Linked DNA regions of Homo sapiens: region 2 is linked to region 1. Evidence: fine-mapped expression QTL. A gene starts in region 1. The other region holds a variant in brackets. All regions are shown on one strand. Distances are from middle to middle.

Region 1 (5,385 bases):
ATTATTTTACACTTCAACTTACCTTGCATGTACCTTTAGTGTCATCTCTTAGTTGCAACAGGGAATATGCAAGGTGTTTATAAAGGAGGATTCAGTGGTTCCCACTTAGCGATTGGATTAAGTTGGCAGCCTGAGACCATACGGTGTGTCCTCCTGCTCCTGCTCCAAATTTATGATAAGAAGGATGTATTAAACAAATGAACTCATAGCAGTGCTGGAAAACCTGAACAAGGAAAGCTACTTTTAGTGGCCCCAAATTATGAATATTTCTAGAACGATAAAAAGTAGATGGAATTCAATTAAGGAAAGAACCACAACCTAACATGCCTGTTAGGAGAAAACTGCTGAAAAAGTTCTGGAGTAGACCCACTCCAATTTATTCCAAGTAAGAACCAGTTGGTGTTTTCCCCTGGGAGGGAGATGTGAGGGGGTATTTGGGCCCATGGGGCAGGGCAATTCCAGGTGGCTGGAAACTTCAGGGAGAATGAGAAGCAGACAGGTCCAGAAACCCAACTCCTGGGACTCTCTACCAGACAGTACATTCTGTTACTTTCTCTGGGCCACTGGAGGTGGCTGAGAACATTCCTGGTGATGAGTGTTTATGGCACTGTTGACCAAAATTGAGGCTGTCAAGACAGAAAAAAATCTATAAAGGTTTATTGAACCTCAAATGTGTGGATTGACCCAGGAAGACACAGCAACAAAGTTGGAGTGTTCTGAGGTCTGTCAGAAGGTGAAAGGTTTTGACAGAAAAATCTGAAAAGACAGAGAGAGATTGCTCATACTGGAGTTGTTCTCTTTTCATTGGAGGGTACAATACAGAAGTTATAATCATTAGCTATGGATTATATCACAGGGTTATAGGAACACATTAAAGTCACAGCTCTGCAATCAGCAAAATACAGAATGTAGAAAATGCTAAAGGTCTAAATAACCAATTCTTTCAACAAAAATAATTGCTGCAAAAAAGAGAGAAGAAGGTTATAACAGGTAGACCTGAGATTTTCTAGGTATAGAATCATATCATCTGTGAAGAGAGACAGTTTTGCTTTCAGGAGAAATTTTGATACTAATTTCTCAACTTGGGGATTTACAGACAGGGAAAACAATGTATTTGAATTCCAAATCCATGTTTGGTGCAGACTTTGGTCCAAGATTCTCAAGAGAGATTTTTTCCCCTTTAAAAGGTTTAATAGTTTCATGAATGAAAAATTGATTTTATACTACCATGCCAAGCAACACTTTAATATATTCCTGTCTGCAAGTAACTACAATGTACAGTTATTATAATTCCTATCCAGACCCTGGGAGGGTTGAATAGCTGGACTTACAAAAATATAGTGTCTTAGAACCTGCTACATCCCCCATGAAGAGCAAATATTTTAACAGCAAGGGGGCCACATTTTAGCCCCTTAAGAGATGAAAGTAACAAACTCTTAATGACCAGCTTCATGTGGTGAAGAGTGTGTTGATGTGTACTGATAGTTGTGCTGATGCAAGAGCTTGAAGCAAATACCCTCTCCTGAAATTAAGCACTAAGCAAGAGCTCATCATATTTCTGTGTGACAATCAATAAAAACGCTCCACTCCCACATTTTACAAAGGAAAACTCATCATTCTTTCAGTATAGAGTCAAATTTTATTGTCCTATGCTATGTGCCTACTTTAGGCTTGTCAAGTTTAGTGCATCCTAGGCCCACACTAGGTCTTTCTGCACTTTTGACATTAACAGTATACACATTTTAGACAGAATGTAGTGAATTTGGGGTCAGAAAGGCCATATTCCTAGTCAAGTTGCTCTCAAAAGTGATTGATAAAACACAATAGCAATTTAAAGGGAGCTTGCTGTCAAAGAAAGATTGAGACTTTGATTAGGGCTTAGACATTGATTGATTACCTCTTGGGGCTATCACTCCATACCAATAGCCAAAAATGTTTGGCATCAGGATTACAGTAGTTATAGATAAAGCCTCAATAGAGGTTTGAGTTTCCTTCTTTCCATAAGGCTACATTCTTGATTAGTGTACCTAAATATGTAGTGCTTACAAATGTTAAGTTTTTACACCTTCTCTGTTTTGCATTTATATTATTTGTATGTGTTGTATTTTCATACTTTTTTGTACAAAGACAAAAGTTGCCAAAAGGAAATTAAGAGCTTTTGGGCTGACATTTGTTATTTTTAGTGGGTAACTTATAAAAGTTGACAGAAAAATGTTATATTTCTATCTGGTCATAGATGGCATTGACCATCCTATAAATATTTCTCACACACTGACCATGTGCCCAAAACTCGTTGAGGAAAGAGGAAAATGTACAGGTAATCATAGCCACTTTACTCTCCCAAGCATCTACCAGGCATAGAAGTAAAGGAGATTTAGTGTTTCCCTTCTATAAATACAAAAATGATAGGAGAATGCAGAGTCACAAATGCCCCAATGTACAGTATCCTAGATGACTTTCTAACAGCAGGGCTTCCTGAGTGTGACACCCAAATATCTTTCCACTTCTCTCATTCACCAACATATGTTTATAATAACCATGTAGTTACATTTGCAAAATAAGATAAATAAAAATATTTTAGAATATTGGCTGGGCGTGGTGGCTCACACTTGTAATCCCAGACCTTTGGGAGGGCAAGGCAGGCAGATCCCTTGAGCCCAGGAGTTTGAGATCAGCCTGGGCAACATGATGAAACTCCATCTCTGCCCAAAAAAATTATATACATTTGGATGGGTCGTTTGCAAAAAAGTAGGGAAGTGTACCCTTGCAAACAAGGACAACATTGATAGTCAATCTTCTTATAGAAAGTGGTAAAAGTGGTAAGCTCTACAAAGGAGCAAGTAATGTTTGCAGATGCAAATCTTACATGCTAACCACTTTGCTAGCCAGATACACTCTGGAGGAATCAACTAATTGGTGTAGGTGTAATAGGATATGTAATATTGCTTGATCAAGACTCTGCTTCTGTGGTTGTTTCTCCACATCTTCCAAAAGATCTTTGCGAAACACTACATTCAGAAACATCAGATGGACATGCTTGATTCACCACGTCTTGGTTAATGAATAAACTTGTTTTAAATTGGCTTATTGCTGGTCTCTCAAGGCTTCCTATTTTTGTTTGCTTTAGTCTCTCTAAAATTTCAGGGAAAAACTATGAGTCTCAAAATGCTTATAAGCAGGAACAAGCTGATTTTACTACTAGGAATAGTCTTTTTTGAACGAGGTAAATCTGCAACTCTTTCGCTCCCCAAAGGTAAGTTTCAAATGAACTCTATAATTACCTTTGTCTGAACCTTTGCTGGCAATGGACGTCACAACTCCGAGACTCCATGTTCCTTTGGGAAAATAGGAGAAGCAAATATATTTTGGATATCTAATTGTTTTTAAACAATTATTTTGGACTTATCTCCTGCAATCGGCATAGGACACAGGGTGAAACATTTATAGAATGCAACTAATGTATCCAATTAAGTAAACAATCCCTGTTTTCTTCGCTTAGTTTTCCTAAGTGAACTGAGATTGTTCACTTACTTGAACCCATTACATAATCCCATCTTGGTTCATAGAGCAAATTCTGGAAATCAGCATGGATTTGGAAGCATTTTTAATCTTTTACAAAATCATCTTGCTGAGAAATATGAAGCATGTTCACTGTAGTATATTATAAATGGTCTTTTTTCCCCTTCAACTAACTTAAGCTGAAAACAGTTCTTGGAAGATTTCTCCTTGGTCAGACTTGTGCCAACCCTGAGAATCAACATGTTTTCTGACTTTGCTTTACTGAATTTGGGAAATAGTAAATTTTGTATTTAAAGTATTTATGACTCATTCAACTGAAACAGTTAGAAAATAAGCTTTTGTTCCAATGTCATCCTGGCACTGGGTTCAGGATCAAAACACTTACTGTTACATTCATGCTCTGCCATTATCCAGCTGTGTGTCTCCTTGATTCTCAGTTTTCTCATCTGCAATGTGGGGATAACAGTGCTTCATTTATAGGCATAGAGTGGGATTAAATGAGAAGCTGTATGAAAGAGCTTTGAATATTTTAACATGTTGATCTAAATAGCTATACTCTTAAGGATGTGTTCTCAAGAAAAGTCATTTGTTTGTCCATCCAGTGTTTCTAAGTGCTTACTTATGCCAAGAATTAAGCTAAACCTTAGAAATGCAGAGGTGAATAAGGCAAGTTTTTTCCCTTGAGTAGTTCATAGTCCGATGATAGAGGCAAATAATTCATTATCACAATTCTGCATGACAAGAACTATAAAAGGGGTGAAGAAAGCGTGCTACACAACACAAGGGAGAGGCAATCCCACTTTGAGGAAATCAAGGAAGACTTCCTGGTTGAGGTGATCTCCAAGCTGAGGAATAAGAATTACAGAATTTAGGTAGGCAATGAAGCATGGTGATTATGAAGCAAGGCTAGTTCTAATCCTCCTTCAAAATATGGAAAAGGATGACCTCCAGGAGGGACAGAAGATGTGCCATCCTTGAGTTACCAGGTGATGTTAAACATCTTTAATCTAGTCTACCTCTTTGCTGAGGAGTCAGAAAACCCATTGAGGGCAAATAAATAAAAACAACTTTTTCAGGGATAAAGTATTTTACATAAAGAGGGAGGAGTTTTTTCTTCTATTACCTAGCAAACCTCTATCCGAGTACCAACTTGTGAATCAGGACACTTCACTCCACTCTCCTTAAATGACCTGTCACTTTTCATCCCTCAAGAGAATTAAATCCAATAAAGATTTATTGATATCTGAATGTGTGCTGAGCACCATACACCATAGTCTCAGACTCAGTTTCATGGGTGAAATGGAGAAGATATTACCTCAATCCTAGAAGCTATCTAATCATTTAGTTTGTCTCGTTTTTTTCTCAGCTCCCAGTTGTGGGCAGAGTCTGGTTAAGGTACAGCCTTGGAATTATTTTAACATTTTCAGTCGCATTCTTGGAGGAAGCCAAGTGGAGAAGGGTTCCTATCCCTGGCAGGTGAGTCTCAAGGACTTCTATGCATCAAGAACTGTGCTAGATATTATGGATATAGATATTTTTAAGGTTAAGTTTATATCTTTGAGGAGCCTACAGCCTAGTTGGGTTGAAAGACAGAATAGTCATCATGGCATGTGATGAATGTCATAAGAAAAAGTATTTACTTGTACATAGTAAGTCATTTTAGAATCAAATCAAGTATCACAAATAGGATAAGCAAAAATTAGAAAGTATATTGGAGAGGTAGGGTAAAGAATAGGCTTGAAGAAGCTATAGGGGTCAAATAGTTAAGAGTATGAGAAAAGTGGTAGATCCAAACCATTTCCCTAAGAGGCTTAGAGAAATAGGAGTATGTGTTGAAAGGCTCCCCAGCCCTCACCTTGCCTTTCT
Region 2 (5,385 bases), 200 kb before region 1:
AACATGGTGAAACACCGTCTCTACTAAAAATAAAAAAATTAGCTGGGTGTGGTGGCAGGCACCTGTAATCCCAGCTACTCAGGGGGCCAAGGCAGGAGAATCACTTGAACCCAGGACACAGAGGTTGCAGTGAGCTGAGATCGCACCATTGCACTACAGCCTAGGGGACAAGAGGGAGACTTTGTCAAAAAAAAAAAAGAAGAAGAAGAAAGAAACTCTAAACATTATTTCACTGTTTTCTAGTTCCAGTGTAGCAAAAATGAGATTTGCTTTTATTTCTGCTCTTTTTTATTTTGGGGTATAGCTTCCACCCCACTTCTGCTTTTTAATCTAAACTCCTATGAGTATTGGAGCTATCAGATCAATTCTCCATGTTTCCTATCTTTTTCATGATAATTTTTACTTCTCATTAATTTTACGTGAATTTCAATCAAATTCATTCTGTGAATTTCTAACTCATCATTTGGTATTCAGTGTTATCTATTTTGTTACTCCATTTCTCCACAGAGTTATTTTTAAAACCATTTTAAGATTTCCCCTATATTGTTTTAAAATTGATCTCTTTTTTTTTGAGAATATGCTCTTTTAAAAATCATTGAGTCTCTCTACAATGATAATGCATATTTTCAAGTTTTCTTCTCTTTCTTGCATTTAATCTGTTTCAGTCTAGGAATATTTGCTCCGGTCCCTTGCATTGATATGTCAACGGAAAGAAGAAAAAAAATCGAGGCAAACAATGTAAGTAGAGAGTTCATTTGGACTAAGCTTGAACACTGCAACGCAAGAGCGTAGATGCAAGTTAACCTGAATATACACCCCTATGAGCAGCAGTTACAAGTGGGTTTTAAAGGAAACAAAGAGGCAGTTCCCAAGTTGTTTACCAAGAATTTACATTAAAATAACATAAGCTATTGATTGGTTATACACTGTTCTTTGTATCACAAACTCCAGGAACATGAAGATAATGGGCAAAGCAGCTAGTCAGGAACAAAATGTCTTTAAACAGTTGGCCCTGGGTATGGGTGTGAGAGGTGTGATTGAGGTCCCATAACCATACTCATGTCTCTCTGGGCCTGACAAATTTTGTATGCTTCACATAACTTAGATGGCTCTGAGCAATTTTTTTTCTCATTTCCCACCTGTTGATCAAAAATCTTTCCATGGAAACATTAATGATCAATTTCTGCTTAGGTTAGAGTGATCAATATCCTTCCTCCTTCAGTTTGAGAAGGCTCATGATGGTGCTGTCTCACATGGGAAGGAGAGGTGAGGAAATGTTACAATGAGGAATTTTAAGACTGTCAAAAGCCAAATTGAGATGGCATCACAGGTGGCAAAAATGGCACCTCAGTCAAGTATGTAGTTGCTGTTGCTTGTTGAATCATTGTTAGTCTTCAGAATATCATGAGTTTAGTCTTTGTGGAAGAAGTAAAACAAGAGATATATGTAATGCATATAGGAATTATAATCAAAAAAAGAATTTGTATATCAGAACAACAACAACAAAACCTATTCTACTGGGGAGTCAACTAAAAATATCATGAAGGAAATTAAATCCAATTTCTTCTTTGGAGGATTGTTAGAGCTGGGACATTATTCAGAATTCAGTCCAAATTGTAGACAAATAGTAAAAACTAAAAAACAACTAAAAAACAATGGTCAGGGCTAGAATCTTATAAGAAGGATGGTATAGTTTCCTTCTAAAACAATTTTTTTCTCTCCCCAGTTCCCCATTCCTACCAAATATAAATGTTAGTAGGACAAATTTATTGGCTAAATAAGTTTTAGTATTATACTTGGCCTGATTATTTGCAAAATGTGCAACAAGAAGAATGATTGGCCATATAGGCTCTTTTCCATTGACTTTGCAGAATTTTTAATAAGAAATCTCAGATTACACTTTTAAAACCTCTAAAGACTAGTAAGCCAAGCCAGGGATTCACTGTGGGACTGCTTGTAACATATGTAAAAATTGAGTGAATTCCTAT[C/A]TTCTCAATGACCCAAAATATCTTGTGGTTCCTGGGTGCATCAGAAAATGACAGTCTTTACTTACCGCAAGCTGAGGAACCTTGTAAGAGAACCGTGTGGGCAAGGCATGAGGCCAGTCTTTCCCATGTCTATTGGCTTTATAAAGTCAGCCTCAATTCCTCAAAGCAGTTTGGTCACATTCAAAAATGTAACATTCCAGCCAAAGCCTTGGTAAAATAACCGGTGTATCCAATGTGTTCTGTTACAAAAGAAAACAGATTCTTATTGATCTTATGCAAATAACTATATTGCCACAAAATACAAATACTCATGAATAGTTTCCAAATTTTAGAGAAATCAGGTAGGGAGAAATGCAGATGTTTTAATTTTGCTCACAAAAGGTTACCCAGTTGCTGTAAGCTATAATTAGCTAAAAAGAGACATTTTCTTGACTCTGGAAAACAAAACATAAAATAATCAGCAATGTTTCAAAGAGAAAAGTTAAAGAAAGCATTTCCACCCTCTGTCAGGCTAGCCCCATGTATTTAATTATTATTCAGCTGGATGTTAGGTTAGTAATATTCATGAATGCATTCATTTTTTAAATTAGAGTTCTGAAAGTTTTCACTCAGTCCAATGATATGATGGGTGGAATCTAGCCACTGGGAGTATTTCCTTTCTGTGTGTGCTGCCAGTAGATGGAAGTGCAACAAAAGCCTGGCTGCCTCCCCGCACCCCCAGCAGAGCTGCCTACCTGCACCCCCAGGAGAGCTGCCTCCCTGCACTCCCGGCAGAGCTGCCCGGGCTTCTGAGTGTAAAAATAAAATAGAGGTTCCTCTTCAAAGAGACTTTCCTCCCCGTCTAATTAGGAATAAATAGTAACTTCTCTCAGAAACAAAATTTATTCAAAGACCTGTGCTAACATTCTTAGATATCTGCTAGCTATAATAAAGAAATCAATGTACTTTGTGTTCTTAGCTCCCACAATTTAGCCTAAATATTTGCCCTGGCATGCTTACACTGGTCCAAGCAAGTATTAAGTCATAGTCTGTTCCTCTTCCTTATTTGGAGGTGTTTTTACCTTTCTCAGCATTCCACAAGTTACTTCCTCCTTTGTTCTCCTCTGCCTTTGCCTCTTTTAAAAAGTTCTAAGTTGCTGGCTAATCAGGACAAATACAGAATGTGAGGTGCAGGGAGCTGAAGGCCCCTGGGAAGTGACCAACTCAGCATTTCGCTGGAGGCTATAGGATCAAACAGCAAACTGTTTATCATGAATGCAGGATGTGGGCAAACTCACACTGCCCTGCCACCAAAAGGTTTGTTGAGGGCCTCACTCCCTGGCGCTGGGCTCCTTGAAGTTATCTATTGAGAAGTCTAGCACCTAAGAATGCAGTCTTGCAAGCCTGCTGCGAATCAAGCTGCTGGCCAACAACCACTCCCCACCTTCTCACTATCTCTATTGCCTAATAAATATGGAGGGCAGTGTAAAGCTCAGGGCCCTTGTCCACTAGAGACAAGGTGCCCTCCGACCCCTTCTTCCAAATATACTCTTTTGCCTCTTGTCTTTTATTCCCGTGTTTGCCCCCTTTGTTCAGTCCCCCTAGGTCCATGCAGGTTACATAGTGGTGCCCCAAACAGTGACACAATTGGGTTCTCAACAAGTGGTGACTCAGAACAGGGACGCCAAGGATGCCAACAAGTGGCGTCTGAACACGGGACTTCGACGATGTGAACAAAAAAGATCTGCTGGAGCAGAGAAGCTGAAATTGACAAGGCAAACGGGGACCCCAGGATGAGTCTGCCGGCAGCATATATAAGGTCAGTGCTCTAAAGAGGTACTGGGAGCAGTGCTTTATAGAAGTGCTGGGAATGGGAAGCTTTCTGAATCAGGGTAGCAGGGGGAATAACTTGTCTGTTGAAGAAAAACATTATGTGCAGTTGCTTAAAGTTCTGTTGAGACAGTCTGGAGCTCAGGTTAATTCTCAGACACTAACCTCCTGCAGAAGCCACACAAAGTTATTATGCATAACTCATGGTTTCCACAGGCAGGCACTCTTGATGTGGAAAACTGGGATAGAGCAGGAGAAGGATTAAAACAGGCTCATCAAAAAGGTCTTGAAGTTGATTCTTCTGTTTTCTCCACTTGGAGTTTAGTTTGTACTGTACTTCTGCTATTATCTCATTATTCTGCGGGACAGCAGGCTGAATCTAAAAATCTAAAAGAATCTGTTGTCCCACCCACAGCTCCAACTGAAAATAAAAAACAGGAGAGGGAGGATAAAAGTTGGCCTATACTGCCTCCTCCAGTTGCAGAAACATTTGTACCGCCTCCTTTGGTGGCAGAAATAGAGACTCCAATACAAAGAATTTTATGCTCTGCTGCAATAGCTGGAGAGCCCTTAGGACCTCACGCTTTTCCTATTTCCATAAGGCCTAATCCTAACAATGCACAGCAGGTTATTCATGAACACACTCCACTAGATTTTAACTTGTTAAAGGAATTAAAAGCGAGTGTGGTAAACAATGGCGTACAGAACCCATTCACCTTAGGATTGCTAGAATCTGTGTTTGGTGCTATGCGTCTTTTACCATTTGATGTGAAACACTTGGCGTGAATTTGCTTGTCGGCTACTGCATATCTGACATGGAATTTAAATTGGCAAGAAATGTGTGCAGACCAGGCTAGACAGAACTGTGCTGCTGGAAATGGAGACATTACAGAGGATATGCTATTAGGTAATGGCCCTTATTCAGACCTGGAACCTCAAATGGGACTCCCAGATGTTGCTTATCAGCAGTGTGCACAGGCCACTAAATGCACCTGGGCCACTATTCCTGAAGGAGTCCCAGTACAATCCTTTTTATGTATCATACAAGGGTTGCAGGAACCCTATGTGCAATTTCTTGCATGATTACAAGAGGCAGTGAAGTGTCAGATTTCTCATACTGCGGCTGCAGAAATGCTAACCTTAACACTAGCTTTTGAGGATGCAAACACGGATTGTAAATGTGCACTGGCACTGGTGAGGTGTACAAAAAACTTGGGAAATTTTCTCAGAGCTTGTCAAGATGTAGGAACTGAGCTTCATCACTCTGCAATGTTAGCACAAGCAATAGCTAATTTATCAGTTGACAAATCTAAAAGGAGCCAAGGGTCAAACCCCAAAACGGGAAAATATTATAAATGTGGAAAAACTGGACATTTTAAAAAGGAATGCTGCCAGATCTCAGGACAGAAAGGACCTTACAATGCAGTGCCCCACCCAGCAGAATAAACACCAGGATTCTGTCCTCACTGTATGAAAGGAAATCACTGGGCTAATCAGTGCCACTCAAAATTTCATCAGAATGGCACCCCCCTGCTGGGAAACGAGATGGGGGCCTGGACCCAGGCCCCACAAACAATAAGGGCATTCC

Direction of the effects. Alleles are on the strand shown, and positions count from the first base shown. SD is a standard deviation of normalised expression in the study named.
As copies of C replace A in region 2, the expression in aorta of the gene that starts at base 3,083 in region 1 goes up (large effect, 0.79 SD a copy in GTEx).

The links. PIP is the estimated chance that this variant, and not a neighbour inherited with it, causes the effect.
Region 2: its variant is fine-mapped to the expression of OVCH2 in aorta (GTEx, PIP above 0.99).

The regions. Positions count from the first base shown.
Region 1 is chr11:7,704,175-7,709,559 of GRCh38, reverse strand. OVCH2 (ovochymase 2) reads left to right here and starts at 3,083. Exons shown (of 16, transcript NM_198185.7): 1 at 3,083-3,253; 2 at 4,886-4,995. The coding sequence starts at 3,166. LOC105376533 (a long non-coding RNA gene) reads right to left here. Exons shown (of 11, transcript XR_007062576.1): 7 at 3,905-3,965; 8 at 3,282-3,335; 9 at 23-159.
Region 2 is chr11:7,904,004-7,909,388 of GRCh38, reverse strand. It overlaps LOC283299 (a long non-coding RNA gene), which reads left to right and starts at 3,434. Exons shown (of 8, transcript NR_036678.1): 1 at 3,434-3,786. It overlaps LOC107984307 (a long non-coding RNA gene), which reads right to left and starts at 3,067. Exons shown (of 3, transcript XR_001748116.2): 1 at 2,723-3,067; 2 at 2,054-2,227. RefSeq lists enhancers at 1,170-1,713, 2,802-3,345, 3,346-3,889, 2,691-3,890. The variant C/A (reference allele first, on the strand shown) is at 1,989.